4 linked regions of the Homo sapiens genome follow. The protein of the gene in region 1 interacts with the protein of each later gene in a biochemical or structural test. Each region holds a gene or a part of one and is shown in the gene's direction. Other genes may lie near its edges.

Region 1 (7,322 bases):
GAAAAGGGGTTTTCTGTGTTCCTTGTATTCATCCTTCAAGTTCATGGCCATCACCCATCACCATCTGAGAGTACTTAGTGCTCAGAGTAACTGAAAGGAAGCATAAATCCTCCTTGCTTTGAACACAACCCAGGGTTTACCGTATGTTCTTGTCCTGGCCAATGCTAATCAGCTCTTCCCCGCTTCTTCCATCTTTAATGCTTGTAAATCAAGCTGCCCCAGTATTAGTCACCACAAAAGAGATAATTAGTAAGTACAAGCTGCTACCTTCATAGATCACTCTGTCTCTGGCTCAAGCTAAGCCAAGAGACTGGAGAAAGCTAACATTACACAGTATGAGTTGCATTAGCAGAACCTTTATTACACAAAGCACGTGAGTCTGAATACTTAAATCAAGAATCTGCACCCTCCCCAGCTGTTGTAAGAACAGCTGTGATATGAGACCAAAGGAAAGGCTACTTACCTACCTTATGAGGTTTTCCTTTCCTGGACTCAAAAACTTATCTTTAGAACCCCAAGAATTTGAAAGTGCAATGGTTTCTTAATGGCATAATCTTGGGATTCAGATATTTTTAAAATACTGTAACCCCCATTGATGGGGCAGCAGAGAAAGGTGCCAGTTTCTTTTACTAGGACATGCTGTGTCCTCCCAACAAAGCCATGGCTTGTACCTTTGCCAGCCATTTGTCCAGCTGGAAAATAACGTTACTATTCTGGCAGGGCACATGGTCAAGAGCATTGCTGCCTCCTCAGAAAAGACCATTTCCAGACCAGCTAGGAACTTCCTTTCCATGCACTGCTAATCAGATACTACCAGCCTGCCTGGAAGTGTTTCATTCAAGTATTTGTTACGTTGGAGCCGCTCAAATGCAAGTTGGCTTTTATTTTTTCCATCACACAGTGTTTCACCAATTTTTGAGTTTCCCAGATCAACCTCTTCACTATGTTTAAACAGAATGATTCCAAGCCAACGCAGCTAATCGGTACAGTAAAACCTCACGAATTCAAGCCAGGAATTTGAACTCTTCCAGCTGAGGACAAGCACTAGCAGTGTAAGTTGGAGGCCTGTTTTCTCATCTAGAAGATGAGGACATAAGGTTGTATAACCAAACTCCTTTTCTACTAATATTAAAACCACATTTCATCTAATCTAAGATGCCACTGACTATGAGAGGTATGTTCATATAACAGCAAAGAAGATGACATTTTAAAATGTGCCATCAGTTAAATAATCCCCAAACACCAAAGATATCCCCATGATGCATAGATTGGTGAACTAGACTCTTGTGGCTTTGAAATCCATTCAGATGAATTTGGCAGCTTCTCCTGCCCTTGGTTGTGTTGCTTGGCATGAAATAGGCAATCCTTTTTGAATGTTCTCAATAACAAAATGTAACACCACTTTTAATTCCCTTGGGTGCATCTTTCTAAGCAGATAAAACATTTGCTTGTCCCTTTGCAAGAAAACACAGAATTGTGATTCTGCTTCTAACAATGAATATGTACTTCATCAATATCCAATTGTTCTGTTTTTGAGGCTTTCTATAACTTTTCATTTTAGTACTGAATCATTACATTCAAATGGCAATTAAACTCAATGGTGTAATACCAAGTATGTAGGCAACTCAATGGAAGTGATAAGGGGTACTCGTGCGACTGGGTTTGCAGTGCTGGGATGGTGACGTCTGCATCATGACTGCCACCTGGCAACAGAAACTTCACAACCCCATCAATCACACATGCATCCTGATTTTAGACATGTTAAAGCATGAAAAGAGCATCTTAGGATGTACAAAATATGGAAATAGCGACAATCTCATGAGAACTGCTTGTAGTCATGTAGATACCATGACGACTTTAATGAATTTGCATTCTAGTACTTTTGGCAAAAAGTACTAAACCCCTGATAAGACTTAATGTCGATCAAACCTCACAGCAATCCAGAAAGTATATGCAAATTTGGAAGTTTAGCCAGGTAAATAAAATTTCCCTAGATCACCCAGCTATGTAAATTTCAGAGCAAGGATTTAGATCTAGACAATAGGACCTTCCATCTTGCCATTTCTATGATTCTATGGGCAGTAAAAATCATGTGTGCATATCACGGTAGACTGACCTTTGATTTCATCTACTTTCAAAAACATGAAGCATCCCTGAAGTAGGATCTCAAAGGGCTATTTAAAATAGCTCAATCATATAGGGTTTTGAGTAATGAATTGATAAGAATTTATAATTAACACATCCATTATATGCAAATGGACACTTCCTAAAGGGGCTCGTGATATGATTTCTGCCTTCACAACTGTGGAAACTGGAGTGGTTACCTGTAGCTACCCTCCCCACAGTAGAGTGAGATAGTTAAATCACCATTTCCTGACCAAAACCTAGCCTGTGCGCTGCAATGACTTGCCGAGTGGCAGTGTTCATGTTCATGGCAAAATATGGACCTAGATCAGCTCCAACCTTGGTCTTCTGAGCCTCGAGAATGTTCTTTTTCAACTTCTTTCTATTGCACCAATAACTTGCTTTTCTCACAAAGTTTGGTTTTTGTGGAGTTTTCTGGATTTTTTTTTATAGCATGGATAGTGAATGGGTAGAGACAAATATGTTTTTGCTAAAAACCACAAAAGCTGTTTTACTCTCTTAATGGTAGACAACATGGCAATGAATGACACTTCTCAGATCATGGGAGCCCCCAACACCAGGGAGGCCCTCCCAGACCAGCCCAGAGAAAGAGAATGGAAGCCACCAAGCTGCCACTAGAGGATAGCAATGCTGAACTCACTCCTGTGGCTTTGTGGTGAGGGTGATTCTGTTTGCATGAACAGTTAAATATGGAATCTGGGAGGAGCTTTATATTTACGTTCAGTGCTCTGGGAACAAAATCCAAAAGAAGAGTGAGGGTGTGACTAAGGGCTTTCATGGTCAAAATAAACACCAGCAAGCAGGAATTACCAAATAGTTGAACATTGCCAGCCTCAAACCCTACTCATGTAGACACCATGGTGACCTGAATAAATTTGCATTCCAGCAGCCAATGTAGAGATTGCTTTAAGAGAATGCAGTGGGCGTCTTTAAAAAATCTCAAATTATGAATTCACTTGGTTGGCAAATGTATATTGAGTACCGATGTGTGAAAAGGGAAGAGAGGATATAGCGGCAGGCAAATCAAATTCCAAGTTCAACAAGCCTATTATACATTCTTCAATTGTATTTGAAGAGGGCTGACTGAGGAATGGCAGCAGAGCCAAAGCTCTTCTTCACCTCCCCGCTGGTTCTGTTACAGCTGTAAAGGTGCCTCCCACTACGGCCTGACCAAAGATAGGAAGAGGCGCTCACAAGATGGCTGTCCAGACGGCTGTGCGAGCCTCACAGCCACGGCTCCCTCCCCAGAGGTTTCTGCAGCTGCCACCATCTCCTTAATGACAGACGAGCCTGGCCTAGACAACCCTGCCTACGTGTCCTCGGCAGAGGACGGGCAGCCAGCAATCAGCCCAGTGGACTCTGGCCGGAGCAACCGAACTAGGGGTGAGTCAAATGGGTGGTTGTCCGGGAATGGGCTCCTTGGCTTGCGATTGCCCTCTGTGGAATACTTACTGTGGAAAGTTCTGTAAATGTTTTTTAAGGGGAAATCGTTCTGGTAGTTTTGGCAGGAACCCAATGTCCAATTCGCCAAAGTGAAATGAAACCGCAAGTACCTCCAATCATTAAAACTGTGTGTAATCTGACTTGGTGAAAGGGGCTGAAACTAGACCTAATGATTCATCACTCCTGCAGTGTCAGTAATTTTTCAGCCATGCTGCTCAAGAAAAGTGGTATTGTATTCAGTTCAGCCCAGAAACAAAAAAGAAAAGCAGGATTTTAAGCACGTCGTACATATTTCACTGTAGAAAACTTAAAAAATACAGGTAAGCAAATTCTACAATCCTACCACCCAGAGGTAGTCACTGTTAATGTCTTATTGTGTATATCTTATCAGATATGTACATAAATGATTATTTCTATTAAATCATAACTACTGTTCCTCCTGTCGCTATTCCTCAGCACGGCCCTTTGAGAGATCCACTATTAGAAGCAGATCATTTAAAAAAATAAATCGAGCTTTGAGTGTTCTTCGAAGGACAAAGAGCGGGAGTGCAGTTGCCAACCATGCCGACCAGGGCAGGGAAAATTCTGAAAACACCACTGCCCCTGAAGGTAAATGAACTCCCCATAAGGCTGGATGGACATGGGCTGGGCTTCCAGGGGGACTTCAGGGATGACGCAATCTGATCACCTTCCACCTTCTGTGACCCCTCTCTTCCCAAGGGTATACAATATTTTTTACTTTGATTAGCCTACTTCTCACGTATGTAGCTAAAGGCAGAAAGTATTATCATCTTTTTACATAGATTGAAGAAAAAAGTGTTGAAACCCTCACCTTCAGGCGCTAGTACCATTATGCATATGAGGAAGAATAATTATAATTAATGAGTGAAAAACATTTAAAACAATGACTGGCACATATAATAAATGCAATATATATATTCGCTCTCCTTACTCTTTCAACTACATTTGAGGTGTGGTGCTGAGTGTTTTACATGCATTTCCTCATTTAAGCCTCACAACAACCCTATGAGGTAGCTACTATTATTCCTCTTTTTTTTTTTTTTTTTTTAGACAGAGTTTTGCTTGTCGCCCAGGCTGGAGTGCAACGGCGGCATGATCTCGGCTCACTGCAACCTCTGCCTCCTGGGTTCAAGCAATTCTCCTGTCTCAGCCTCCCAAGTAGGTGGGATTACAGGCACCCACAACCACAACCAGCTATTTTTTGTATTTTTTAGTAGAGACGGGGTTTCTCCATGTTGGTCATGCTAGTCTCGAACTCCTGAACTCAGGTGATCCACCCACCTCGGCCTCTCAAAGTGCTGGGATTACAGGCATGAGCCACCGCACCTGGCGCCACTCCTATTCCTGTTTTACAGATGAGGAAACTGTGGCACAGAGAGGTTACTTAGGTTGCTCAAATTACCTTGCTAAACTTTGAATCCAGGTAACATGGCTGTAGAATTCATGCAAAGGAAGCTATTGAGTCTTAGATCCCATATGTTTTCCCCAATATAAGTGGAGCTGAGGAAATACTGTCCTACTGTCTTTGCATTTTATGTTAGAACTTTAGAGTAGTAGTAACAGCTTTTTTAAAAAATTGAGCTCTTTCTGCATGCACATAGTGTTTTAAGTCATTTAGATGTGACAATAATGTTAAGGGGATAGGACTATCATTCCCATTTTACAGATGAGAAAACGGAGACCCAGAGGGATTAGGTAACTAGCCCAGTCACCCAGCTAAAAAATGGCAGAACCAAGATTTTAAATCAGGTCCTCTGGTTCCAGAGCCTACTCTCTTAGCTCCTGGGTTATACTGCCCTCTACTCTTGGGAGTTGGGAGGCAGAACCCAAACCACTGTATGTATTATGCCCTCAAAATTCATGAGCAGCCTTATCAGACCTTTTCTTGTATACTTATTCATGATTGCCTCTCACCCTGCACGTACATGCTGCATGCTCTAACAGCTCTCAGCTTATTACAGTCCTATAAATGCTGTATATCTTTCTTTCACCTCCCTTCCATTATCCAGCCTGCGCTCCCACTCTCCTTTCAGCTGGCATTCACGTTCCTTCTTCCAGATTTAGTGTAAGACTTTGCCTCCTCCTGGAAACCTCACTCCCTCAGCCCCCTTTTTAGGTGTTTTTGAAGCACCTGTATCAGCGATGATCATGTTTCATGTAACTGTACCTCAAAGTGCAGGGATTATTTTTCTGAATCTTTGTTCTTAAGGCCTAGCACAGTGTCTGGCACATAAGTGTCCACTAAATGTCTGTGCAATGGCTAAATGAAAAGATTAGAACTTCCTTTCCACCAGTCTCTTCCTCTTATTAAAGACTCTTCAATTCCACTCCATGTAAAGTTCTCTACTACTTGGGCCAGACGTGGTGGCTTACTCCTGTAATCCCAGCACTTTGGGAGGCTGAGGCAGCCATATCACCTGAGGGTGGGAGTTTGAGACCAGCCTGGCCAACACAGTGAAACCCCATCTCTACTAAAAATACAAAAATTAGCCAGGGCATGGTGGCGGGCACCTGTAATCCCAGCTACTTGGGAGGCTGAGGCGGGAGAATTGCTTGAACCTGGGAGGCAGAGGCTGCAGTGAGCTGAGATTGTGTCACTGCACTCCAGCCTGGGTGACTCCATCTCAAAAAAAAAAAAAGTTATCTTGAAAAAGATTTATTTGCATATTTATTACAAAAACATTTATAAAACAGATTATTATATGTAAGGCACCGGCCTAGGTGCTGTCATTTTATATAAAGAATATAAAATGTAGTTCTTGGCATCAAGGGGTTTATTCAAGACTAAAATATAATAAAATAAAAGCATACCTCATTTTTATTTTTACAAATTGAAAGCTTGTGGTCACCCTGTAGCCAACAAGTCTGTTTGCTCCATTTTTCCAAAAGCGTGTGCTCACTTCATGTCTCTGTGTCACATTTTGGTAATTCTTGCAGCATCTCAAACTTTTTCATTATTATATCTGTTATGGTGACATGTGATCAGTTATCTTTGGCGTTACTATTGTAATTGTTTTAGCGTGCCACGAGCCATGCCCTTATAGGTCAGTAAATTTAATAATTGTGTGTTCTGACTACTTCACTGGCCATTTCCCCATGTCTCTCTTCTTGGGCCTCCGTATTCCCTGATACATAACAGTATTGAAATTAAGCCAATTAGTAACCCTACAATAGCCTTTGAGTATTCAAGTGAAAGGAAGAGCCACATGTCTCTCACTTTAAATCAAAAACTAGAAATGAACCTTGGTAAGGAAGGCATATTGAAAGCTAAGGTAGGCTGAAAGCTAGGCCTCTCGTGCCAAACAGCCAAGTTATTAATGCAAAGGAAAAGTTCTTGAAGGGAATTAAAAGTGCTACTTCCAGTGAACACATGATTTACAAAGCGAAACAGCCTTATTGCTGATATGGAGAAAGTTTGAGTAACCTGGATAGAAAAACAAAACAGCCACAACATTCCCTTAAACCAAAGCCTAATCCAGAGGAAGGTCCTAACTTTCTTTGATTCTGTGAAGGCTGAGAGAGGTGAAGAAGCTAAAGGAGAAAAGTTGGAAGCTAGCAGAGATTGGTTCATGAGGTTTAAGGAAAGAAGCCATCTCCATAACATAAAAGTGCAAGGCAAAGCAGCAAATGCAGATTGTAGCGAAGCAGCAGATGCTGATTGTAACGAAGCAGCAAATGCTGATTGTAGAAGCTGCAGCAGGTTTTCCAGAAGA
Region 2 (7,322 bases), on another chromosome or scaffold:
ATTGTCCCTGCTCTTCCCACCCGCTGTGGGCGTCTCAGCCCATTGTCCCTGCTCTTCCCACCCTCTGTGGGTGCCCCAGCCCATTGTCCCTGCTCTTCCCACCCGCTAGTGGGCATCTCAGCCCGTTGTCCCTGCTCTTCCCACCCGCTGTGGGCGTCCCAGCCCGTTGTCCCTGCTCTTCCCACCCTCTGTGGGCGTCCCAGCCCATTGTCCCTGCTCTTCCCACCCGCTGTGGGCGTCTCAGCCCATTGTCCCTGCTCTTCCCACCCGCTAGTGGGCGTCTCAGCCCATTGTCCCTGCTCTTCCCACCCTCTGTGGGCGTCCCAGCCCATTGTCCCTGCTCTTCCCACCCGCTGTGGGCGTCTCAGCCCATTGTCCCTGCTCTTCCCACCCTCTGTGGGTGCCCCAGCCCATTGTCCCTGCTCTTCCCACCCGCTGTGGGCGTCCCAGCCCTTTGTCCCTGCTCTTCCCACCCTCTGTGGGCGTCTCAGCCCATTGTCCCTGCTCTTCCCACCTGCTAGTGGGCGTCTCAGCCCATTGTCCCTGCTCTTCCCACCCGCTGTGGGCGTCCCAGCCCTTTGTCCCTGCTCTTCCCACCCGCTGTGGGCGTCTCGGTCCATTGTCCCTGCTCTTCCCACCCTCTGTGGGCGTCTCGGCCCATTGTCCCTGCTCTTCCCACCCGCTGTGGGCGTCCCAGCCCTTTTTCCCTGCTCTTCCCACCCTCTGTGGGCGTCTCAGCCCATTGTCCCTGCTCTTCCCATCTGCTGTGGGCGTCTCAGCCCATTGTCCCTGCTCTTCCCACCCGCTGTGGGTGTCCCAGCCCATTGTCCCTGCTCTTCCCACCCTCTGTGGGTGTCCCAGCCCATTGTCCCTGCTCTTCCCACCCACTGTGGGTGTCCCAGCCCTTTGGGTTCCTTGGGATCCAGACATCACCCTCAGCCTTTTCCTGAGAGGCCCAGCTCCAGCCCGTGTGCCATATCCCAAAGCTCCCCTCCCTGAGCCACCTGCCAGGCACTCACTTCATTCTACCACGTCCAGCATCCTCCCAGCCCCCGAGGCAGGAGGTCACTGCTGGCCTGGACGTGGCCTTGGTCCTGCCCAGCCGCATCCCAGGTGCCTCCCGAGTGCCCTGAGGTGGCGGTGGCTGCAGCCTAAGCTTGGCAGGCGCCTACCTTGCTCCTCACCACTTGGCATCCTGCCTGAGCCCCACAAACTGGCCCTCGATGCCACGACAGCCCCGTAATTCTGGCAGCCTTGGGCCTGGCAGCCCAGTTTGTAGGATTAGCCCTGCAGAACAGGGTGGCCACAGGGGTGGTGACAATGACCACAGGACATGGGCCAGGCTGTCACCCCGGCCCTTCTTTCCAGCTCCTGGGGGCCCCCTGGGCACAGCTCGAGAGCCACTGCTTGACCTGCCAAGGACAGGGAGGTGCACCAAGGCCATTTCCCCAGTGGCAGAAACTTCGAGCCAGGGGCTCCACCCAACAGGGCCGTCCCCACCACAGTGCAAGGTGGCCAAGGCGCTGGGGAGCCAGAGTGCAGCCTGGGAGGTGCCTATGGATCTAGGGGTGCCAGGTGCTGCTGGTGGCGATGAAAGCTGTAGGAGAGGCCCGTCCTGTGTCAGGCGGTGTAGGAGCTGTGCCTTCTGGATAACGTCCCAGACTTGGGGTTCCACACCCACTCCAGAGGGACCCGGGAGCCCCGAGGTCTGGAAAATGCTGCCCGACACGCCCACCCAGTTCTCTGAAGCCTTCCTCTCTGTCTCTCTCCTCCCTCCCCGCTCCCTCTCCTCTGCCTCGGCTCCCATCACCTCCACCCTCCCAACTCGTGGGGAGACGTTGGGCTCCAGGGGATGCTCCCAGCCTGGCCTCCTGGACACGCTGTGGCCTTTGCCTGTTGATCGGGGTTGGTATTTCTAGAACCCTAGACCAGGGTTTAGGTCATGTCCCAGAGGGCCGTGACTTCACTGTGGACACCCGTGTGTTTCCCACCGGGCGTTCCACCAGAGCTGTGGCCAACAGCTGCCCTCACGAGGCCCAGGAGGGGACAGCGCCTCCTTGCATTTGCGAGACCTGGGAAAGGTGCCTGGCCGTGCCCACCTGTCCACTGGGAAGAGGACATCGCCCGCTCCAGGTGGCTCCCAGAGGTGCCTGCACCGGCACTTCCAGGTTGAAGGCCACCAGGATGATACCTGTGTTGCAGCTGCCTGGCGCCTCTGCAGGGGTTCCGACAGACGGGGTGGCTCTGGGGGGCAGTGGTGCTCCAGCTGCTGGGCGCTGCCGAGCGCTGGCACGTGGGGAACACACTCCTTTTGACTTTTCCAAGGAAGCTGGGGGTTGAGGTTTTGTGAGCGTCTCTCCGTGCCTGGCCGCCTGTGGAGGCTGTGGTTTGCATCTTACCGTCTGGGCTGGGACCAGGACGGGGGCTGGGTGCTGGGAGGACGAAGCGCTCAGCCCGGTGCCTGTGGCGGGGATCAGATGTCCTCACTGTCGTGGCGGGGACGTGGACGGTGGCCTCGGGGTGGTTGGCTCACAGACCAGGGTGGCCTTCCTGAGCATCCCGTAGGGCCGTGGGACCTGAAGCAAAGGCTACCTGTTGTTGACGCCGTGTGACAGACGCCTGCTGCTCATGCAGCTGCGAGGCTATGGGTTCTGGTCCCGGAGGCCTCCGTGGGTTGGGGTCAGACCCTCCTCCCAAATCTGAGGTGATGCTGAGTGAGGGAGTGGGGTTGAGCTGCTCAGGCAGATGCGGCTGCTTTCCTTATGGGATGAGGCCCCACGGGGCAGGCCCACGGTCGGGTTCCTGTCCTCCCAGGGGCCAGGAGAGCCCCCGGCATCACAGGAGGATGCCATGGGCGGGAGGGGACAACGGGCATGGGGAGGTCTGCAGGCCAGCCGTGGGGTCCCTGCTGACCTGGAGGGTTCTCAGGGATGCAGAGCAGTGGGACAGGCTAGAGGAGGCGCCTAGGCACCCCAAACCGGAAGTGCAGCTGGGACAGGAAGGGGGGCGGAACAGGTTGGGGGATCACAGGAGGGTCTCGCTAGGGACAGGGCCAGAGGGATTGAGGGGGAGGGTTGGGCCCTCGGGAGGGAGTGAGGGTAGGGTGGGTCCTCAGGAGGGCGAGGCCAGGTGGGGGCTGCATCTCAGGGAGGGGCGCCCGCCCTGGGAAGCTGAGGCTTTGGTGGGTGCCGGGGCACATTGGGCCAGGCCTGCTGGGATCCTGTGTGCGGACTTGGCCTCTCAGAAGGTCTTCCCAGTGGGGAGGGGCTGCACATCTGGCCAGCGGCCCGGGGGCAGGTTTTATAAGTTGCAATTAAAGCTCTTGGCCTTCTAGTTAACCGAGGCAGCGTAGATTAAAGGGCAGTTTTATGCAACCAGGACGGATCTGATGAAATCACCAGCCACAGAGATTGGAGTGGCTTTGACTGTAGATGCTCATTTTTTCCCGTTTGATCCTCCCTGCATCTCAGAGGTAGCTGTTGACCTGGGTCTTAGAAAAAACACTGTGCGTTCGAGCGCTGAGAATTCTAGGGAATAAGGGGATATTTTTTCAATGTGGTTTTCCTCTGTGTTAGGAACTCAGTCATGGGCTGGTTGGTGTAGTATTGGCTGGTTGATACAGCGTTGGCTGGTTGGTGCAGCGTTGGCTACATGGTGTAGTTTTGGTTGGTTATTACAGTTTTTATTGGTTATTGTAGCTTGGCTGGTTGGTGTAGCGCGCGGAGCGTTTCCAGACATCAAACCACGGGTCTGTGCAGATTCTGTCTTGAACAGCTGCGCCCCTCCTTCTGTCACCCTGTGCATTTACACTCCTGTCTGTAACCAGTGAAATCCCCCACAAGTGCGCTCAGAATTTTTAGAAACACGGCACGGGCTGCGTTTACATTTTCACTGTATTAGCTTTATGCGTGGAGTGCGTGATGTGCTGTTTCTCACTTGACATGTTCAGCAAATCGTGGGAAACACTTAAAAATCCTTAAAAAATACTCCACCCCGTCCAACCCGTCGCCCGCTGCCTGTCCTCAGGAGCCACCGCACCTCCGGCTCCTCTGAGTTCTGGCACTTTCCAGGAAGCCACTGCTGCTGCCCCTCATCTGGGCAGCGATGTGGCCTCCATGAGTGACCTCAGTTAAGGCTCTTTAGCAAGGAGTGCTGTACGCGCTGGCCCTCAGGCCCCAGGGCACCTCACTGCTATCTGTAAGGAGGCTCAGGGCACCCAGCACCATGCAGGAGGCCTGAGCTCTGCCTGCTGGTCTGATGGGAGGTGAACTGGGTGCCTGAGGGGGGATTGTGGTGCGGGGGGGGGGGTACTGAGAACCCTGGGGGCTTCACCACACAGGTCCCCTGCACCCTCCCCACATCCCAGAGGAGAAGGTCTGGGCTGGAGCTCCCAAGGGTAGACAGGGATGCCTCGGGGCACCCACCTCAGCATTTAGGGTCACCTTCCCCTCCCTACCAGCCCTCCACAGTGGCAGTGCCTGCGTCCCTCAGCCTGGGCATTGGTGGTCTTGGCTGCCCCCCTCCACAGTGACAGTGCCTGCGTCCCTCAGCCTGGGCATTGGTGGCCTTGGCCCCCCTCCGCAGTGGCAGTGCCTGCATCCCTCAGCCTGGGCATTGGTGGCCTTGGCTGCCCTTATGACACCATTTCTGTCGGCAGCCACCTCCAAGCACCTGCACGAGTCCACCTGAGGGGCTGTAGAGCTCCTAGTATCTGGTCCATCCCACGAGGATTCTGTGCCCATGGGGGCTGCAACTCTGGGGCTCTGGGCACTGCTCTGCACTCCATGGAAGCCCACGACTGCAGCCTCACCCATTATTCTGATTTTGAAATAAATAAATAAATAACTACAGCCTGGGTTTTAGAGATGATTTGGTTTTATGCCAGCGTCCACCTGGACAGAGCTTTTCCCTCACAGCGGTGCCTCCCTGCTGTGTGGATGTACAAAGGCCTCGCCGGGCTGGGCTCATGGGGCCCCTCAGGCTGCAGCAGCCAGTCCCGGAATGTCGGGACTGCAGCCCCCAGGAGGGAGGCCTACTTTTTAATAATCAGCTGTTTTGTTTCTTATTAAAATGAGGGCAAGCTCTCCTGCCTCCCGCTGGGAGCTGCCCACCCTGCCTTGGCACCGCCCTGGGCGGCCAGCAGGAGACCTCAGCTCTGGGGGGCCCTTGGCTCAGCCACAAGGGGGGCTGGGGGCCTGGGTCTCACTCAACAATATTCAGCCTCGGCAGCGCCACCTTAGTGCCCATGTGTGGGTGGGGGTCTGGTCCCTCTCTCCCCACCCAAGTTCTGGGGTGGCAGCTGGCCAGCCTGGAACCTTCCACCATACCCTGTTTGGACCCTGGCCAGTGACCACGGTGGCAGGAGGCGCTTGGGGGGGTCCAGGTGCCCTCGAGGGTGACCCTGCTCAGCCTCCTGCCTGGGCCAGACTCCAGGAACCCCAGGGACCCCGGCAGGGCAGACAGCCCCATAGGAGGTCAGAAGAGATGAGGGGCACATGACCCCTGGTCAGGAGGAAAGGATGAAGCCGTGGGGACTGTGAGGGCAGTCCCAGCTGGGCAGCCCTGGGGTCCTGTGTCCACCCACGGAGACACCAACTCGGCACCAAAGTCATCTCCAGGGTCAGGCTCTGGCCGTCCAGGTGGACGGGACTGAGCTCTGTGCTGTATCTCCTTGTGGGCTTTCCACGGCTTTCCAGGGACCTGGAATCAGAAGCAGAAACACAGCTGCCCATCCCTCCCGCCCGCCTGCCCGAGAGCTGCCTGCTCTCAGGAAATGCTCCAGGGCGGTGTGTGCTGGGCCGAGGGGCTCCGCACCTCCACCACTGCGCAAGGCCCCTGCCCTGACCACAGGTCTGTCTCCTTCTCTGTGTCCTGAAGGCTGCAGATTATTCATGAGAACCATGTGAGCTTCGGCTCAGCTGAAACACCGCTGGGATGTGTTTGAAGTTTTTCCCCATTTTCCGTAACTGGTCTCGGCCGGCAGCCCTATAAGAGGCATGTTGGGGTCCTGGGCAGCCATGCGGGCAGCGGCTGGAGTCCTCGTGTCAGGCTCCAGTGGGCAGTGCTGGGAGCAGGCCCCAGAGCAAAGGGGCAGTGTGTCTCCTCTTGCATTTAGGGTAATCCAGCATGGGGGCCCTGGCCAAGGGGATCCCCAGGGCAGCACTGACTGAAGGGGTCATTCCAGGCAGCTGCATCTTCTACCTGGAAATGCTTTGGGGAACCTGACAACACAGGAATGTCTGTGTGTTTTGCTTCCTAAAATCTGAGGCTGAGTGGGGCACGAAGGGTTGGTGTTTCTGGACCCAGAGATTGAGACGCCCCAGGAGGCCTGAGGCGAGTGTCAGGCTCCAGTCCAGCCGCCCAGAGCTCCTGCCCATCTCCCCCGCCTGCCCACTGAGCTATGTGGCCACTGACTGCCCCGTTCTTCCTGCAGGAGCTGCCCAATGGGGACCCCAAGGAGGGGCCTTTCCGGGAGGACCAGTGTCCCCTACAGGGTGAGTGCAGCTCCCGCAGCCCTCCCTCCCCAAACTCACAGACTTCATCCCGTACCAAGGCAACGCCGAAAACCACCCTTAAAACAACCCCGTGTGCGGAGCGAGGGCACTTCCCAGGCTTAGACGCACTTTGTTCTTAAAAAGCCTTGGCAGCACAACTCACAGGGTCCTCGCTGGACTGGCAGCTGCGATCTGGCAGCAGAGACCAAAAAGGCCTGTCCCATGGGCAGAGCCCTAAGCGTTACCTTTATGTGTTTGGAGTCTCTGTGAGCCTGTGTTTGTGGATGGGGGTGGCTCTGTATAAAGGGGACCTGTGAATTTTCAAGTTAGCCCTGGGCTGGAGGATGTGTGAGATGCTGGCCCAGCCTAAGTCACTGCCACGCGTGTATGCCTCAGTGGCACCAGTCCTACCTGTGGCGCGTGGCAGGTCAGCACTTGGCTTACCTGTGGGTCTGTGGGAGGGTGCTGGGAGGCCAGCAAGCAGGGCCACCTTCGGATGGCTGCTGAAGCCAAGAGAGGCACCCACACCCCCTCAGTGGGAAGGCAGGCCCAGAGCATCGTCCCAGCTCAGGCTCGACGTGCACCTGTCTGCAGGTGCTGAGCCCGGACAGTCCCACACTCCTATCCTGGGGACGCAGCTTGCAAGTGCTGGAGAATAACGGAATAATTGTGCTCCAGAAACCAGAGGACTGTTCATCCATCCTGCCCAGAGGCTGCGGGGAGGGGGCCGCCTGTTGACACACTCAGTGCACAGGTGGCCTGTGTGGCCTGTGGGCTCAGTGCTAGGATTCTGGAGTGGAGGGCCGGAGGGACTGTGTCTATGGGGAG
Region 3 (8,210 bases), on another chromosome or scaffold:
CAACTATGTCCAACCTAGAGTATATCCTTGTTTAATATGTAGAGTGTTCATTTCCAGTATGCTCAGTATTTATCATCTTCAACTGTTCTTCTTTAATTTCTGCATTTTCTACATTTGTTGTTCTCTTTGTTTTAAACATTTTTCAAATTGTTCAATAATTTGCCTCTTTTTGGAAGTGAATTCACATTCCACTTGTTGAGTCTTTTTTATGTATACTTTGAATTTCGAGTGTGTGTGCAGGGTTATCTTGAATAGAAATTTTTGAAAATCTCTTCCTCTCTTTACTCTCTCTTTTCCTGAGTTTTTTAAAGTAGCCTCTGACTTTCCAGGGCCCACAGTCAGAACTAGGCCTTACATGGGTGGCTGTGGGCTCTCTTTCAATCAAGAGAAAATCAGATCCAAATCCCTGTTTCAAGCAGAGAGCCTGGCTCCAGCCTTCCTCTATAGGCAAAGCACTGTGAAACTCTGTTAGCTGAAGGAGTCAAACTCTTGGTGCCTCTACACTAAGAACAGACCCTCAAGACCCAGGCCCAAGAATGGTTTGCTAAGAACAGATCCCAGCAAGCCAGCCCCTGATTCCAGCCATTGTCCTGCAACTACATCCTTGAAGACGTTTATCTTGCTTTTGAGTACATCTGCCTTCTCCCCTTCCTCCTCTTCTTTTGTTTTTAACTATACCATTGCTATATGTTAAAGCATGGTATCAGCTGATCTTGATCAGACATATCAAATGCCTCATTCTAAACAACCTCTCTCCTAATTCTTCCTTTATCTTCAAACCCAACTATATGTGAAGCCTTTCCTGACCACTCTTACTTGGAATGAACTATCTAAGCCTCCTCTGGTCTGCTGTACCCTACTTCTACCTTCCTTTAGCTTTTACTGAGCAAGAATTTCTTGAGTGTGTGCCACTCAAGTGTGTGCCAAGCCCTCTGTTTGGCACCCTGGTGTAAACATGAGAGGGACAAGGCTCCTTCCTCAAGGGACCAAGGGTTTGGTTGTCAAGCTGGACAGGCAAACAAACCATTGTGCTCCAGTCTGCAGATACCCAAGGTCCGGGTGACACAGAGAAGAGAAGGATGTGGTCTGTACTGTCTGGGAGTGGGAGGGGGAAGGAGCTAAACCCCACAGGAAGGAGATGCTTGAGCTGGGTCTTAAGGGAGAGGAGTTTGGTAAGCAGAGAGCAGAGGTGAGAACATTCTTGGCTGAGGGAATAGCATGTTTAATGGCTCTGAAGTGGAAAGGACTAGGGTCCGCTTGAGAAATGAGAGATGCGGAACCTAGGAGGAGTGAAGAAGGTGACAGACAAGAGGACAGAGACTATGAAACCAAGTGTGCAGGGCCTCACAGGCAACATTAGGGATCCCCGACATTCTACTAGGGACACCAGGAAGTCCTTTCAGGTTGAAGCAGGGGGTTGGCATGATGAGATTTTCTCTAGAAGGGACCAGAGCAGAAATGGGGTTGGCCAGTTAAGAGGCCATTGCAAAAGTCCAGGAAAGAAGGACAGCAGCTAGATGAACTTGGGGAACTCGGGGTGGAGGAAAAGAAAGGTGACAGAAGTGAGGCCAAATTGATTGGTATTTCCAATTAAGATAAAACAAGCCCTGATAACTCTAGAGTTTCTAGCCCTGGACAAGCTAACTCCTTCCAAGAACAGTAACATCTCCATAGACCTGAATTGGCGATGGGGACACAGCAGGCAATTTCCCAGCCATGATTCCAAGTTGTCCCTGCAGTTCATGTCTTAGGAGCAGTGGCACAGAACCCTGATGGATTTCCTACCACTGCTCTGCCCGGTTTTGCATTTTGAATATGTCTTTAATCTACATTAAAGTTTTCCATTTCCATGGACCAGTTTAAATCAGCATAGAAACTGGTTACTATCTTACTCTATCTACTTCTGGATATTTTTTTAAATAAGGGGCTTGCTTAAAGGAGTGCAGTCATTCACATTTCTTCATGCCATCCCAAGTCAGTGCTACAGTGTGGGGTTTGGGAACTTACCTGGCAGTGATGGACAGGCCCAACCCAGCCCTCTGCACACCTGGTCTACAGAAAGTTTCTCCAGAACTTGTGCAATTGCATCTGTTCTGCCACTGCAAGGCGGATGTCATTGTGGTCACATCGAAAATCCACCACGTTCTGCAAAAAATATCACTGGGGTCACAAAGCCTCCTTGATGGGTTTGACATGTTGCCTTATCCTCCCCACCCCAACCCCCATGGTGCTCTGTACAAAGGGGCTGCCACCCCACTGGCTGACACTTTTCTGAGCTGCAGGGCTAGAAGGCCCCCAAGCTGATTTCCGTGAGACTAAGATGGAACTAGTCTATTTTAAAGCAGTACACCCCCAAATCTGGCCATCATCACACTCAGGGGCCTGATTCTCAAGATCCAAATAGGTGGAGGTTGACTCTGGCCCCCTCAGTGCTTCCACCACTGGGCAAGTGCAGTTTCGTGTCTAGCCATCTTCCTTACCACCCTGTTGATTGTAGCCTTTGGCCAGCAGGGCCATTTGACACTCCTGATACAGTGCTGGTGGTGCTGAGCAAAATGGCAAACTACCATCTACAGCAAGAATTGATGTGTTGGTGGCCTGTCTGGACTTGATTGCTTCCTTGTCTCCCTCATTCATGTGAGTTGAGGGACAGCACTGTGTCTACACAGCGAGGGACCCTCATACCATGCACACACACACACACATGCATACATCGATAGGCCAGTTATAACCATCATTGTAAAGGTGTTTTCTTCCCCAACTCCCTCATCTCCCATTTGAAAAAGCTGCAGGTACTGGTGCAAGCCCTCAGTGATACAGATACATTATATCTACCACAGCCTTGCTAGTGTTGCAATAATGAGAAATCGCCTAAATGTCCACTAACAGCAGAATTAAATTATGGAACACCCATATATAATGCACCCATTTATAAGAATGGGGTGGATCTTCATCTGCTGAACGCTCTCCTTCTACTGTGAAACAAGATAGGTTGCAAAAAAATATTTATCTCATACAATCCCATGTGTCTAAGATGATGTATAAACATCTGTTTATGTACAGATAATATCTAAGGGACACATTCAACTGTAACAGTGGTTTTCTGTGGGGAGCAGGTGACAGTGAGGAGAGTTGAGACAGGGAACTTTGTGTTTGTTTTCGTACAAGAATATATTGCACTGTTGTCACTTAAAAGACATTTTTAAAAATTTCTGAATATAAAATGTTACATGTTCCATGCTAGAATAAGCATCTTGGATGCTTTGAGGGAGCTGGAAGGAGGTACTGAAATCAAAATAATTAAAAAAAAAAAAAAAAGCCCATCCAGGCCCTGATATGGTGGCTCACACCTGTAATCTCAACACTTTGGAGGCCAAGGCGGGGCAAAGCGCCTGACCTCGGGCATTGGAGACCAGCCTGGGCAACATGGTGAAACCCCATCTCTACCAAAAATACAAAAAATTAGCTGGGCATGGTGGTGTGCTCCTGTGGTCCCAGCTACTTGGGAGGCTGAGGTGGAAGGATCACTTGAGCCTGGGAGGTAGAGGCTGCAGTGAGCCGAGGTGGTGCCACACTGCACTCCAGCCTGGGCAACACAGCCAGACCCCATCTCAAAAAAAAAAATAGCAACAACGACAAAGAACCCATCCAACACTTAAGTTTGTACTTCACAAGGACAAGGAGAATGCAGTTCAACAAGCACAGCTCAGCCCATGCTGTGTTTCTGGGGATGGAGGACACATCATGAAGTCTCGGCATGGTCCTCGCCCAGCAGAACTAATGGGTGGGGCAGACACATGGAACACAGAATGCCAGGTGTCTTGTCTCTAGGATCAAGCAGTAGCAATGTGAGGTGCAGCCACTATGGGATTCAAAGTGGAAAGACTCAGAAACCCTGAAGAAATGGGAAGAGGGCATGCCACTGGAGCTGGAAGGTTTCAGGACAGCAACAGTCAAAAAGGAAAGATGAGCCTGTAGTCCCAGCTACTCAGGGGGCTGGGGTGGGAGGATCACTGGAGCTCAGGAGTCCCAAGGCCAGCCTGAGCAAAACAGCGAGACTCCAGTCTTTTTTATTTTATTTTATTTTTTAAAGAAACAAAAAGGAAGGGGACACACATGTGTTAGGGACAGAAAAGAGAAAACCGCCTCTACCCAAGCATTCACCCACATCACCCACACCTCCCTGCAGAGCACCCAGAGCTGGGGGTGAAAGAAATGAGGTCCAAATGAGACAGCACAGGAGCTGCCTCCAGGGCTTAAACAGACCAGCATTCCAGGCCGAGGGACCGCAAGTGCAAGGGCGTGAAAGCACAGAGCGCAGGGGTTGAATGACTTCAAGCCTGTGAAGCTGCAGCTGCAGGTGTATGGGAAAGGCAGGGCAGGGGGCTGTGCGGAGGCTGGGAGGAGCCAGCACCCAAGGGCTGGTCAACCAAGCTGGGGGTTGAATTTCCATCCAGCAATGCAGGCCATGGGAGGCTGCAGCAGTGACGCTGTCAGATCCCCTTTGTGAGAATAATAATTTTTATAACAACGTGGCTGGAGGACTGATCAGGAGAGAGACTGGTGTGAATTGAAGGCTGTTGCAATGGCTCCAAGAAGAGATGAGGCTGTGTGGTGAGTTTAGCCGCTGGATGAAAGGCCGGAAGAATGAGGTCAGCAGCGCACTGACACCGACACCCAAAGCTTCGGCTGCTGCCGCTCTCATGGAAATCTCCTGGGGGAAGGGAGAGGGTCCTTCCTCGGTGAAAACTGGGGCTGCTCTAGCGAGTTCCTCAGAAGCGGGCAGGTCGCTAGTTCCTCTTCCTTTTCAGCCCTCAGTGCCCATTTTGCCAATAAAAAGTCCCAAGGTGACAGTACAAGAGACGCCTTTAGTGAAGGCAAAGGAAGGGACACTCCCCTCCTTTGCTGCCTACTCTCGCCCTCACTTCTTGAAATCTTTGGTCTCCCTTCACCCACTCTGTCACTCTCACAAGACAACCATTTCCAAGGACTATTTCCAAGCCCTTTTCCTCATCCCCAAACCCGCAGTTTTCAGCTGCCCCCAGTTGCCTGGCCAGGCTGCCTCGACGGCCCTATTCACGGGCCCCAGCCTCCTCGCCGGGCTGGAAGGCGACAACCGCGAAAAGGAGGGTGACTCTCCTCGGCGGGGGCTTCGGGTGACATCACATCCTCCAAATGCGAAATCAGGCTCCGGGCCGGCCGAAGGGCGCAACTTTCCCCCCTCGGCGCCCCACCGGCTCCCGCGCGCCTCCCCTCGCGCCCGAGCTTCGAGCCAAGCAGCGTCCTGGGGAGCGCGTCATGGCCTTACCAGTGACCGCCTTGCTCCTGCCGCTGGCCTTGCTGCTCCGTGAGTTTGAGACGCCCGGGAAGGCAGGGGATGGGGCGGGCGGGGGGCGGGGGGCGCGGGACTGCGGGCTCAGCCTCGCTGCTTGCCGCCTGCAGACGCCGCCAGGCCGAGCCAGTTCCGGGTGTCGCCGCTGGATCGGACCTGGAACCTGGGCGAGACAGTGGAGCTGAAGTGCCAGGTGCTGCTGTCCAACCCGACGTCGGGCTGCTCGTGGCTCTTCCAGCCGCGCGGCGCCGCCGCCAGTCCCACCTTCCTCCTATACCTCTCCCAAAACAAGCCCAAGGCGGCCGAGGGGCTGGACACCCAGCGGTTCTCGGGCAAGAGGTTGGGGGACACCTTCGTCCTCACCCTGAGCGACTTCCGCCGAGAGAACGAGGGCTACTATTTCTGCTCGGCCCTGAGCAACTCCATCATGTACTTCAGCCACTTCGTGCCGGTCTTCCTGCCAGGTCCGCGCGCCGGGTTGCGGCACCTCTCCGCGTGGGGCTTGGGGTTCACCTCAACCTGTTTTCCACACCTGGGCCCTGCTTTCAAGCCTCTTAGCGCACCTGGAAGCGACTTAGATACTGTTCCCATTTCACAGACACAGCAAACTGAGGCTAACGCGAGGCTGAGTAGGGACTGGGGATGGCTTTTTACGTCCGGCCGATCTGGACTCGAGTTCGGATTCTTGTGTGATTCTGGGCAAATGACTTAAATTATCTGCGCCTCCGTTTGCTCGTGGGTAAAATGCGGACAGCAATCAACCCGCGCTCCAGGGTTGCTGGTTCAGCCCGGGAGAGAGGCCAGGTGCAGGGGAGCTGGCTCCTGCGCTCCGGCTCTGGGCGCCGGGTGCGCTGGGCTGAGCCGAGGCCCGAGCACAGGGGTCCGCGCGCATCCCGGGGTCCCCATCCTGTCTCCTCTGCTATCCCTTCTCCCAGGAAAACCGGGGGGAGGCGTCCCCGTGGGGAAAGGTGCGCGAGGCCGGGGCTGGGGCGCCTCCATAACCCCAGCCTGGCCCCCAACCACGCTCTGTTGCTCTTGCAGCGAAGCCCACCACGACGCCAGCGCCGCGACCACCAACACCGGCGCCCACCATCGCGTCGCAGCCCCTGTCCCTGCGCCCAGAGGCGTGCCGGCCAGCGGCGGGGGGCGCAGGTGAGGCGTGCGGGGGCCCGGGGCGGGGGCGGCACGCACCGCGGGGAGAGCCCATGCCAGGGACAGCCCTGATACTGTAGGTAGAGTCAAGGGCTGTCCAAGTGGTGGGAAACCGAGATCTGAGGCGGAGAGACGTTCCCGGGACGGTGGGGCGGTTGGGAGGTCCCGGGCCCTCTCCTAAATGTCGGCGTCTTTGGTGTCGTCAGTGCACACGAGGGGGCTGGACTTCGCCTGTGATATCTACATCTGGGCGCCCTTGGCCGGGACTTGTGGGGTCCTTCTCCTGTCACTGGTTATCACCCTTTACTGCAACCACAGTAAGTCCCGAGGAATCGCGGCGGGAAGGAGTCGGCCCCGCTCCTGCCCTTGGCTCTGCTAGCTCCAGGCGGACCTTGCGAGGGGGGAGCTTGGGGTTGAGTTTTCTGGGACTCCCGAGCTGCCCCGCAGGTACAGGCACTTCTTTCTGGGAGATAGAATGCGAGAAAGCCCTTCCCGCTCCTTGCGCTCTCGGAGAGGTTTTGGGAGACAAAGCCGCGTTCCCAGAGCCGCTGCAGCGGGTGTGTTCCGTCGACGAAGCCCGCAGCGCGCGCGCACATGTCTGGACACATGACAAACGCCCGCCGGGAGGGGGCCGCTGTGGCCGAGTCAAGTGCCCAGGAGGGTTAGTCAAAACCACCATCAGTTTGAGGTTCGTCCTTGGCCCTCTTCGGCGAACCGCCCACCCTGCTTTGGGTCCCATGCAAGAGAGGTGCCGGATCAGGTCTGCAGGCTCCCCGCTTTCGCCCGCGTCTGTAGTTGCAATTTTTTTTAATTGATGCTTGAGACGAAGGATGGATAAGAAGCCCTTACCCGGCTCTCAAGAGTTATAATCCTCAAAGAAATAGGGGAAAGGAAGGAGAATTCGTAGAGGCAATTCCCTATTTGCCTCATCCAATTTCAGCCCATGATCGTTCTGAAATGATTTTTTGTAAAACCAAAAAACAGCAGCAACAACAACAGCAACAACAAAAAATACACTGTCTTTGGGGACTATTGATGGATAGGGGCACTCACTTTTTCCCTTCTTTTTCCTTATCCAGGGAACCGAAGACGTGTTTGCAAATGTCCCCGGTGAGTCTCTTTTGAACTCAGCCTGCTCACCTTGGCCAGCCCTGGGGTGGGGTCCTGGTTTCCCCAGCAGCAAATAGTGGGAACTTTTCCCAGAGAGAGGTCATGGCCGTGAAATCCTGGGGCAGGGAGTCAGCCAGTTCCTGAGCAAAGAGAGGCCAAGGCTGGCATCTGGCCTGTGTCTTTGAGAAAAAGGAGGCCCGGGTTAGGCGGGTGCCAACAGCAGTGTGACTCCAGTAAATCTCCATCTTATTTGACCTGGCACTTCCAAAAAAAAAAAAAAAAAACCTGAGGGATTCCCCCAATTTATCCTAGCTCCTCGTAGGACCTGACCTCCTCTTTATTCTGATTATTCCATCTGGGTTTTGTTGTTTTCTTAAGAAAACAATTTTTTTTCCTACTTGGCTGGTCTAGTTTTTTGAGGGAGAGCCAATCTTTTATCAGCTGAACCAAAATAATAATGGCTTTGGTTGCTAACTTCTCTGTGTCATGTAGGACCTTGGTTTGCTGCCAAGGACTGGAGTAGAAAAAAGGGGAACGAGATGCAGGGACAATTGGCTATCTGGCAGCTCAAGTGACTGCCTCATCCAGTTTCAGCCCATGATCACACACACACACA
Region 4 (7,957 bases), 650 kb from region 1:
CAGGGGAGGTTTCTAAAGGAAAATTGGGAGTGCTCTTATTAAAAGAATGGAAAATGATTCTGAGCAAGGGAGGTCAACAGACGTTCTTTGTAGCCAGACTACAGGAAAACAGTCCAAAAGAGTGGAGATAGGTGTTGATATGGCTTGGATATCTCACTCAAATCTCATGTTGAATCGTATTCCCCAGTATTGAAGGTGGGAGTATTGTGGGAGGTGTTTGGATCAATAGGGCAGATCCATTATGAATGGTTTGGGCCATTGCCTTGGTGATAAGTGATCTCTTGCTTTGGCTGGCACCTCCCCCCCTGCTTTCTCTCTCTCTGTGGCTCCTGCTTTTGCCATGTGATGTGCCTGCTCCCCACTCACCTTCTGCCATGATTGTAAGCTTCCTGAGATCTCCCTGGAAGCCAAGCAGATGCCAGCACTGTTTCCTGTAAAGCCTGTGGAACCATGAGCCAAGTAAACCTTTTTCTTTTCTTTTCTTTTCTTTTTTCACCTTTTTCTTTATAAATTACCCAGTCTCAGGTATTTCTTTAGAGTAATGTAAGAACAGCCTAACATAGGTGTCAATACATACTACATAAAAGCAACGACAACAGTGGTCTTGAATATGGTCTCAAAGCAATCAATTCAAAAAGAACCTCATTATACCCTTTTATAACTGAAAGTTAAATGTCTACTGGGACATGATCTGTCCTTTTCTGGGCCTTTGTGTTGTTTGGGCTGCTAGAGAAGAGTGGAAGAAATGGTGAATTCACACTGAGTTCCTGTCTATCTGTTTCCAGTGTGTCTTCATGTACTGCCAGGACTAGAAAGGTAAACATGACATTTCCTAGACTCCCTTGCAGCTAGAGTAATAGATAAAATGAATTTCATTAATTAGATGTGCTCAGAGATTTGAAAGGCAGAAGCAAGGAGGAAAGATTCTTTCTGCTGCTTGATTGCTTTCTGCTGCCATGCACAATTGAGATATTGGGCTTCTGTGCAGCAACTTTCCAATGTCTGGTCTCTAGCTTTGTGAGTTTTGAGAGAGAATAACAGAGGCAGCCACTGTGTTCCCCTGATTATGGAAGAGGCAGCAGCTTCCTGCGTGGGCCAGTTCTGCAGTGCTGCTCTGGGAGCCATTTCTGCAGGTCCAGCCTAGAGCCTGCTACTCCAGCCCTTCCAAAGACATTGAAAGCAGGTAATTTCCTGTATTAAATCGTCTTCTGCTTAAAACCACTAAAGAGTGTCTGTTTACTGGATCTAAACAAGCAGAGTTGACAAAAGTCTCAAGAAAAAATAAAGTCTGGTTCTTGCTCAAGGCCTGGATGTTCAGAGAGGGCTGATTTGGGAGCAACTCCTGGTGATGTGGGCAGAGGAGCAGCTCATTTGGCTTCCATGCGGGCATGTTCCCATGGAAGAAGGGAGCACCAAGGCAACTTCTGGAGCTTTTCTTATCAATATGAGGGCTCCTCCACAGAAATCACCAGGGCTTTTCTCTCTGTTCACCCATCAGGAACTATCCTCCGTTCCTTTAATTCATTTTCTCAATGTGAGGCCTTTGCTATATTCACTTATGCTTTCATTTATAATCCACAACTATTTACTGAGCACCTATTGGCAAGTGCTATTCTCTTGCGAACTAACCCATCTTGCCCCCTCCTAACTCCCTGCTCCATACTCCCATGTACATGCACACACATACATGCACACTGTACACAACACACAAACTTCTCAACTCCTTCACCACCCCCTCCTTGACTGCCACAACCCAGGTTTTTAGTCCTAGTTTGTGCTTCTGTAATTCCTGAATTTTCCCTATCAAAGTGTTTTCTCACACTGTATTGAAATTGCTCATTCACTTCAGTCTCTCATGCTAAATGTAGCTGCAGGGATGGCAAAGGTTGCATTTCTTATTTGCCACTGTAGACTCAATACCTAGCATAATGTCTGGTATACACATAGCCCAGACATCCAATAAATATTTATTGAATTCATATTCTGGCATTCTAAGGGCTTCCAGGGACTGAATTGTCTGGGCTAAACCTCTTAAGATCAAAGGAAGTGCTAGAAACTCCAGATGCTGAGGTAAAATTGAACCTTGGCAAAATACTTCTTTCTTTTCTTCCCAAACCCCTCCTCATGTTTCAATTCCCCATCCTCATCTCTTTTAGCTTGACAAAAAAAAAAAAAAAAAAAAAAAAAAAGAAAAGGCTCTGTCCCTTGCAGGATATGTAACTTTGGAAGAGTTTTTTAACCCGAGACTTTGCTTTCTCACTTGTAAAATGGAAGCGTAGTGAATTACAGATGGCCACACATTCTTTGACACCATTCCCACTTAAAGATAGGATCGATGTTCCTGCCCCTTGATCTTTAATCTGGGTGGGCTCTGTGACACTTGACCAATAGAACAGAGCAGAAGTGATGCGGTGCCAATTTCCAAGTGTAGGTCTTAAGAGACTAGCAGCTTCTACTTGGTTTCTTAGAATGCTCACTCAAAGGGAAGCCCGTCACCATGTTGTGAGAGAGCCTGAGCTAGTCCCAGCTGTTCTGCCCATTCCAGCTGACACACAGACATATGAACGAAGATACCATCTTGGATGTCCAGCCTAGTTGAGCCTTCAGATGATAGCAGCCCCAGCTGCCATCTGACTGCAACAACATGAGAGACCCTAGGTAAGCACTCCCCAGCTAAGCCTAGTCAACACACAGAACTGCGAGCCACTAAAGTTTGGGGTGGTTTACTAAGCAGCAATAGATAACGGCAACTAGAAGTAATGGTAATACCTACCTCATAGGACTGTTATGAAGGTAAAATGAGATTTTTAAATGCAAAACCCCTGTGTACAACCTAGAATGAAACAAGCGCTCATTATGTATCGTCACTTCTCCTGCCTTGCCTCCTTCCTCTTTTTAACTCTATGAATGTCCCAGAAGGAGAGGTAGGTGGAGTGGAGATGGGCTATATGCTAGGTATTTGGAATTTGAATAGCTCTCTTTTCTTTTTTACATCTTTCTCTTGCTTCTCTCTTTTCTGTGTTCTTTAAAGCATAGCCAGATCATTTAGATCTAAAATAAGAACACCAAATCAAGCCTTTGCGTTGCAGACAGAAAAATCACGGGTTTTGTATGGGCTTATGGTAATGAAAATCAAGCCCAAGAAACTAAATGATTCAAAGCAAAATTCCCCTTGACAGCTTTTGTCATGTCTCTGTGTGTGTGTGTGTGTGTGTGTGTGTGTGTGTATGTTAAACTAGTACTTTAGCCTACATCATTATTTTACCATGTAAGCATGATAGAATAGCAGGCTTTTTGGAGGGGAAAGATTTTAAAAGTACATGGTTACCTGTAATTACAGTCTTGCAAAGTTTGATTTTATAGAAGTGACATTCAAGTCTGATTTAAACCATGCAGAAAGACATGGTGCATATTGGAAATGCTTTTTCTTTCTGACTCAAATGGCTGTTTCGTTCTAGTGATCTCCCTAGAAGTCAGCCTTTTATTATGTTTATTGTAAGGTTGTGTGTCTTTCTAATTACGTGGCCCATCCTAGAAAACTTGCTACCTTGAGATTACCTTTCTATTTCTCCTTGCATTCCTGCAAACACCTAAACCTCTGTAGACAAGAGGTTCATCTCAGAGTCTGAACTGGCTGAGGATCATAAAATTCTGTCAAATACCTGGTCAATTAAGTTCTGGCTGGAAGAGGGGGTCAAATTAGATGACTGACATGTGCGGATAAGGGCACTGGTTTATTTCACATTTTAGCCTTTAATGTGGGTGGGTACACAAAGCCACAGAGTTTGTTGCCATACCCCAACATAAAAGCCTCTGGGACAAGGTTGAAAGGGTAGCGGGGAGAGGGCCTTGGATAGCGGATGGGGTGGTTAACCCGCGACTCTGGTGACATTTTGCCATCAGCCGCTGGTGACATCTTGCCATCAGCTGCAGCTACAGAATGTTGCTCGCAGGAGGAATTTGGCCTGCCGTTGAAGATGTGTTTCTCAGATGAGACTGTAAGGGGCCGGAGCTTGGGATTTTAGGAGTGCAGGGCCCACCTCTTCCTTGGTATCAAGCCACTTAACTAAACTCTTGCGGTGTCTTATGACCAGGGACGAAGTGCGGGGCCCCTTCAGACGTCGCAGCTGGAGTAACTGTTTTCTTTCCATTTCACAGCTCTTGAAGGAGGTGTGACTGAGTGAGGCGCTGGAAAGCTTGTTCTATAATTACTTCTTGATCCGCTTCTAGGCGTGCTGTGCATGCGTCCGACCATGTGTGTTTGCGTTAGCTTGCGCCGTCGACAAGAGCCAGAGAACGTGGGTCTAGGATAAAACGTGGATGATATTTTTGCTTCAAATGTCACATTTTACGGGGGTCTAAAGGTCTTAGGCTGGAGTCTTTGCGGATGATTGCCAACTGTAGCTGAATCTATGAGCTGGGATGTACCCAAGCCAGTGCAATCGCTCCAAATCAGGGCGGGCGGCACTAAGCCGGGGAGCAAACACCGCTCCCGGCCCGCCCAGAGCAGACGCCCTAGGTTGGGGCTGCAGCGAGTGCGCGCGTGGGCTGTGGAGCCGGCGGAGGCAGCGGTCCGGAATGGCTCTGTGGAGGCTGCGCTCTCTTCCTGGCCCCGCAGCCACAGCAGCTGCCCCATGCTCGCGCGGCAGGACCTACCAGGCGCCCACCCTGGGCTGCGCCGCCTCGGACCACCCGCTGCTCCCCTCCGCCCGCTGCCTCTTCTCCCCGCGCCTCACGGGGCTCCGCACTGACTCCAGGCGCCTCCGGGGGCGTCGCGCGCGCGGAGCGGCGCCGGGGGCGGGGCCTCGTGTAGGGCGCCCCGGGATTGGCTGTGGGGAGAGGGGGCGGGGCCGGCCGCGGAGAAAACAGCCGGCGCGCCGCGCGAGTGCAGTCTGGGTCTGGAGCCTGAGCCCTGCGGAACCTCGGCGCTCGGCCCCACCCCGCCCGTACCTGCACTTATTTATTGTTGTTATTTCTTACCGCGGAGCCCCGCAGTCGGGTCCTCCCGCCCGCTCCCGCGCAGCGCTAGCATTCTCCAGTCCCTCAGTCCCTTCCCGCGCGGTGCGCCGCAGCCGAGGCGATGCGCCTCATTCAGAACATGTGCACCATCGCCGAGTACCCCGCGCCGGGCAACGCCGCGGCCTCCGACTGCTGTGTGGGCGCCGCCGGCCGCCGCCTGGTCAAGATCGCCGTGGTGGGCGCCAGCGGCGTGGGCAAGACCGGTGAGTCGTCGCGCTTAGCCCTGGGTCTGGTCTTGGACGACCCCTGACGGGAGTTGAGGCTGAACAAGGCGTGGGGAGCGGTGGGAGCTGCAGCCCGACCGCTCTCCGTCCCCGCGCAGGGAGCCGCTGCCCCTTGGGAGTGGGCTTAGCCGTTGTCTACGCCACCCGCCTGCTTCCACAGACGGGGGAAACAAGGATCAAGAATGGCCAGGCAGCTTTCTGGGGACCACCGGCACCGCCGCCATCAGAACTTTGGGGTGTTTGAGCCTCTGGCAATGCCTGGCACAGAAAGGGGAGTTAGTGAAGCTAGCCCCCCTGGGAGGTCTTGAAGGTTAGGAAGACATGGGTCTACTGGAAGGCTTAGGTGTGGCTCAGCCGGGCTCAGAGGAGGGGGTGGGCCCAGTGAGCCTTCCAGCTGCACAGAGCCATAATTCACGATGCCTTCTAGCCCCCTCCTTTTTGTCTGGAAAGAAGGGTCAAGGAGCTACAGGGTAGGAATTTCACTTGGTGGCCATCTATGGCTTTCTTTGGGAGAACTGTTTTCCAGGCAGGGGGTGGGGTGGAGAACAATCTAACTTCCAAGGTTAACACTTTGACGTTCTTTTTTCTGACGTGCAGCACTGGTGGTCCGGTTCCTCACCAAACGATTCATCGGTGACTATGAAAGAAATGCAGGTGAGACAATGCATTTGAGAAAAATTCTGTCCCATTGCAGGAGGACTGCGGTTCCCATTTTCCAGCGCTTCCCAGGGAGGTTCTTTCAGTGACAGTCCGAGCCTGAGGATCCCGCCACTTAAAACTTTCCCCAGTCCCCAGCCCTCCATGGCGCCCCCCTCCCATAACTACCATCTGGCCTCATTCCATTCCAAGCCCATTCATCATTTTATCAAGTGCCTGAAAGTATTCCCCTTGGTATGTTTTAACTATAGTGACCCCAGTTGGAAGCACCCTTTGTAGTCAAGAACCTCTCCCTTCAAAACACTCCTGCAAAAGTCGTAAAAAAAAAAAAAAGGAGTCCCTAGCTCCTTCCCCCACCCCTCTCCTTCTCTGCTGGCTGCCTTTCAGAGGTGACCTTTTAAAGCAAAGGCCAAAGGAGAGCAGTTGTAAACCTAAAGTTCCTCCTTCTTAACAAAGACAAACAACTGGATGGTAGAATTTTAGGAGGAGAATTCCCGAATAAATGAGAGGACACATTTTTCAATCCTTATGATTAAGAATAGCCACTGGGGAGGCTTAAGAGCTTTCTGCCTATGCTCTGTTAGCAAATTGCTTAACTCTGTAGACCATATGAGTACCTATAGGGGATTATTTGAAATGAGCTGTATAAGCTATCCCAAGATAAGACATGGCAGCCTTCTGATTTGATGTAGAGTTGATTATAATTATATCACATTTTTATTCCAACTGATAACATTGGCTGTGTGTTTACTAACAGTATTTGTCTAGCAAGCCATTATATCTAACGGCCAAAATACAAAGTTACAGTCAAAGAATGAATCAAGTACTCAAGAAAACAGAAACCTCACATAGGCTGAGCAAGATAATTTGCATCAAGGGAGTACTCTAAAAATGGAAACTTTGTTTAAAACTAGATAAATAAGTTTTCAAAAACTTGCAAACTTTGCCCTGGTTTTAATAAATCTAACATAGGGTTAAAATTGCTGTTGTTTTTTAAAAAAAATCTGAAGTAAGCCCACCAAATAGAAATAAACTATCGCTGTTTTGTGTGCATTTATGCATTGTGCATTTTTTTTCTAGCTTAAAACTCACAATGTTTTAAAAGTTGTACAAGAAGGAAGAACATAATCTCTTTTATTTGCCTTCATAGGTAATCTCTATACTAGACAAGTTCAGATAGAAGGTGAAACCCTGGCTCTTCAGGTTCAAGACACTCCAGGTATTCAGGTGAGAAGCTCTGAGACTCTGGGTGAAAGGGGAACCTACTTGGCTGTGGAATCACTCACTTCTTCTCAAAGTTCCTCATGCTGCAGGATCAGAGAAATTTGGGGAGTCACATCTAGACTTTTACATGTCTGACAATTCAATTGTATCTGGCTGTTGGTCGATCTTAGCATGGTTTAGTTTGGGAGATTTGGCTAGGGGGCAGAAATCTTCCTTTAGAAGGATTCAACACAGCCGGAAAGCCCAAACCGAATGCAGTTGGAATTGGTGTTTTCCTTGCTGTGGTTTAAAAGTCCAGTTTTAATATGTGTGTCTTTGGCATGAAAAACCAAGCTTCTGGGTATAGTCTGCAAATACTTGGAATCGCTTTTGTACTGGAAAGTTGCTCTATAGACAAAAGCGCCATGCTAGGGTTTTTCCCCCCGCCTCCTGAACTGGGCAGTTATCCAGGTTTAAATGCTTCCAGCTCCTATCTTTACTTCCCCAGACTTACTGTCTAGCCAGTTAATTTCCCATTTTGTGCAACTACAAAGTCGCTCTGCATGGAGTTCTCTGCAGGTCAATTTTCCACTTGAGTGTGGTAAGCTGCACTGTTATTTATTCCCACTCTGTGCAGCTGGATCAACATATTGTCAAGAAAGCTGAAGTGTGTGGGATATAAGTTGTTTATGGCCCTCAACCTGGCACTACTATGAAGGGCTCTTTTGAATTTGAAATCTACCCAAGCCCAGGCTCTTTGTACAACTGGCCAGCATTCACCTTGCCATCACTCCTCTCTTTCAGGTCCATGAGAACAGCCTGAGCTGCAGTGAACAGCTGAATAGGTGCATTCG

Evidence for each region.
Region 2: the proteins of LNX1 (region 1) and NKD2 form a complex in vitro, tested with the Homo sapiens proteins (one study listed by BioGRID).
Region 3: the proteins of LNX1 (region 1) and CD8A form a complex in vitro, tested with the Homo sapiens proteins (one study listed by BioGRID).
Region 4: the proteins of LNX1 (region 1) and RASL11B form a complex in vitro, tested with the Homo sapiens proteins (2 studies listed by BioGRID and IntAct, with this or other methods).

What each region holds. Positions count from the first base shown.
Region 1 is NC_000004.12:53,504,192-53,511,513, reverse strand, and holds part of LNX1 (E3 ubiquitin-protein ligase LNX), read left to right. Parts: intron 1-3,286; coding exon 3,287-3,528; intron 3,529-4,044; coding exon 4,045-4,197; intron 4,198-7,322.
Region 2 is NC_000005.10:1,025,719-1,033,040, forward strand, and holds part of NKD2 (protein naked cuticle homolog 2), read left to right. Parts: intron 1-6,433; coding exon 6,434-6,494; intron 6,495-7,322. UniProt on the Homo sapiens protein: Cell autonomous antagonist of the canonical Wnt signaling pathway. May activate a second Wnt signaling pathway that controls planar cell polarity.
Region 3 is NC_000002.12:86,787,914-86,796,123, reverse strand, and holds the start of CD8A (T-cell surface glycoprotein CD8 alpha chain isoform 1 precursor), read left to right. Parts: upstream 1-5,210; 5' UTR 5,211-5,298; coding exon 5,299-5,347; intron 5,348-5,442; coding exon 5,443-5,796; intron 5,797-6,373; coding exon 6,374-6,484; intron 6,485-6,690; coding exon 6,691-6,801; intron 6,802-7,563; coding exon 7,564-7,594; intron 7,595-8,210. UniProt on the Homo sapiens protein: Integral membrane glycoprotein that plays an essential role in the immune response and serves multiple functions in responses against both external and internal offenses. In T-cells, functions primarily as a coreceptor for MHC class I molecule:peptide complex.
Region 4 is NC_000004.12:52,857,428-52,865,384, forward strand, and holds the start of RASL11B (ras-like protein family member 11B), read left to right. Parts: upstream 1-4,889; 5' UTR 4,890-5,080; coding exon 5,081-5,222; intron 5,223-5,840; coding exon 5,841-5,897; intron 5,898-7,050; coding exon 7,051-7,127; intron 7,128-7,907; coding exon 7,908-7,957.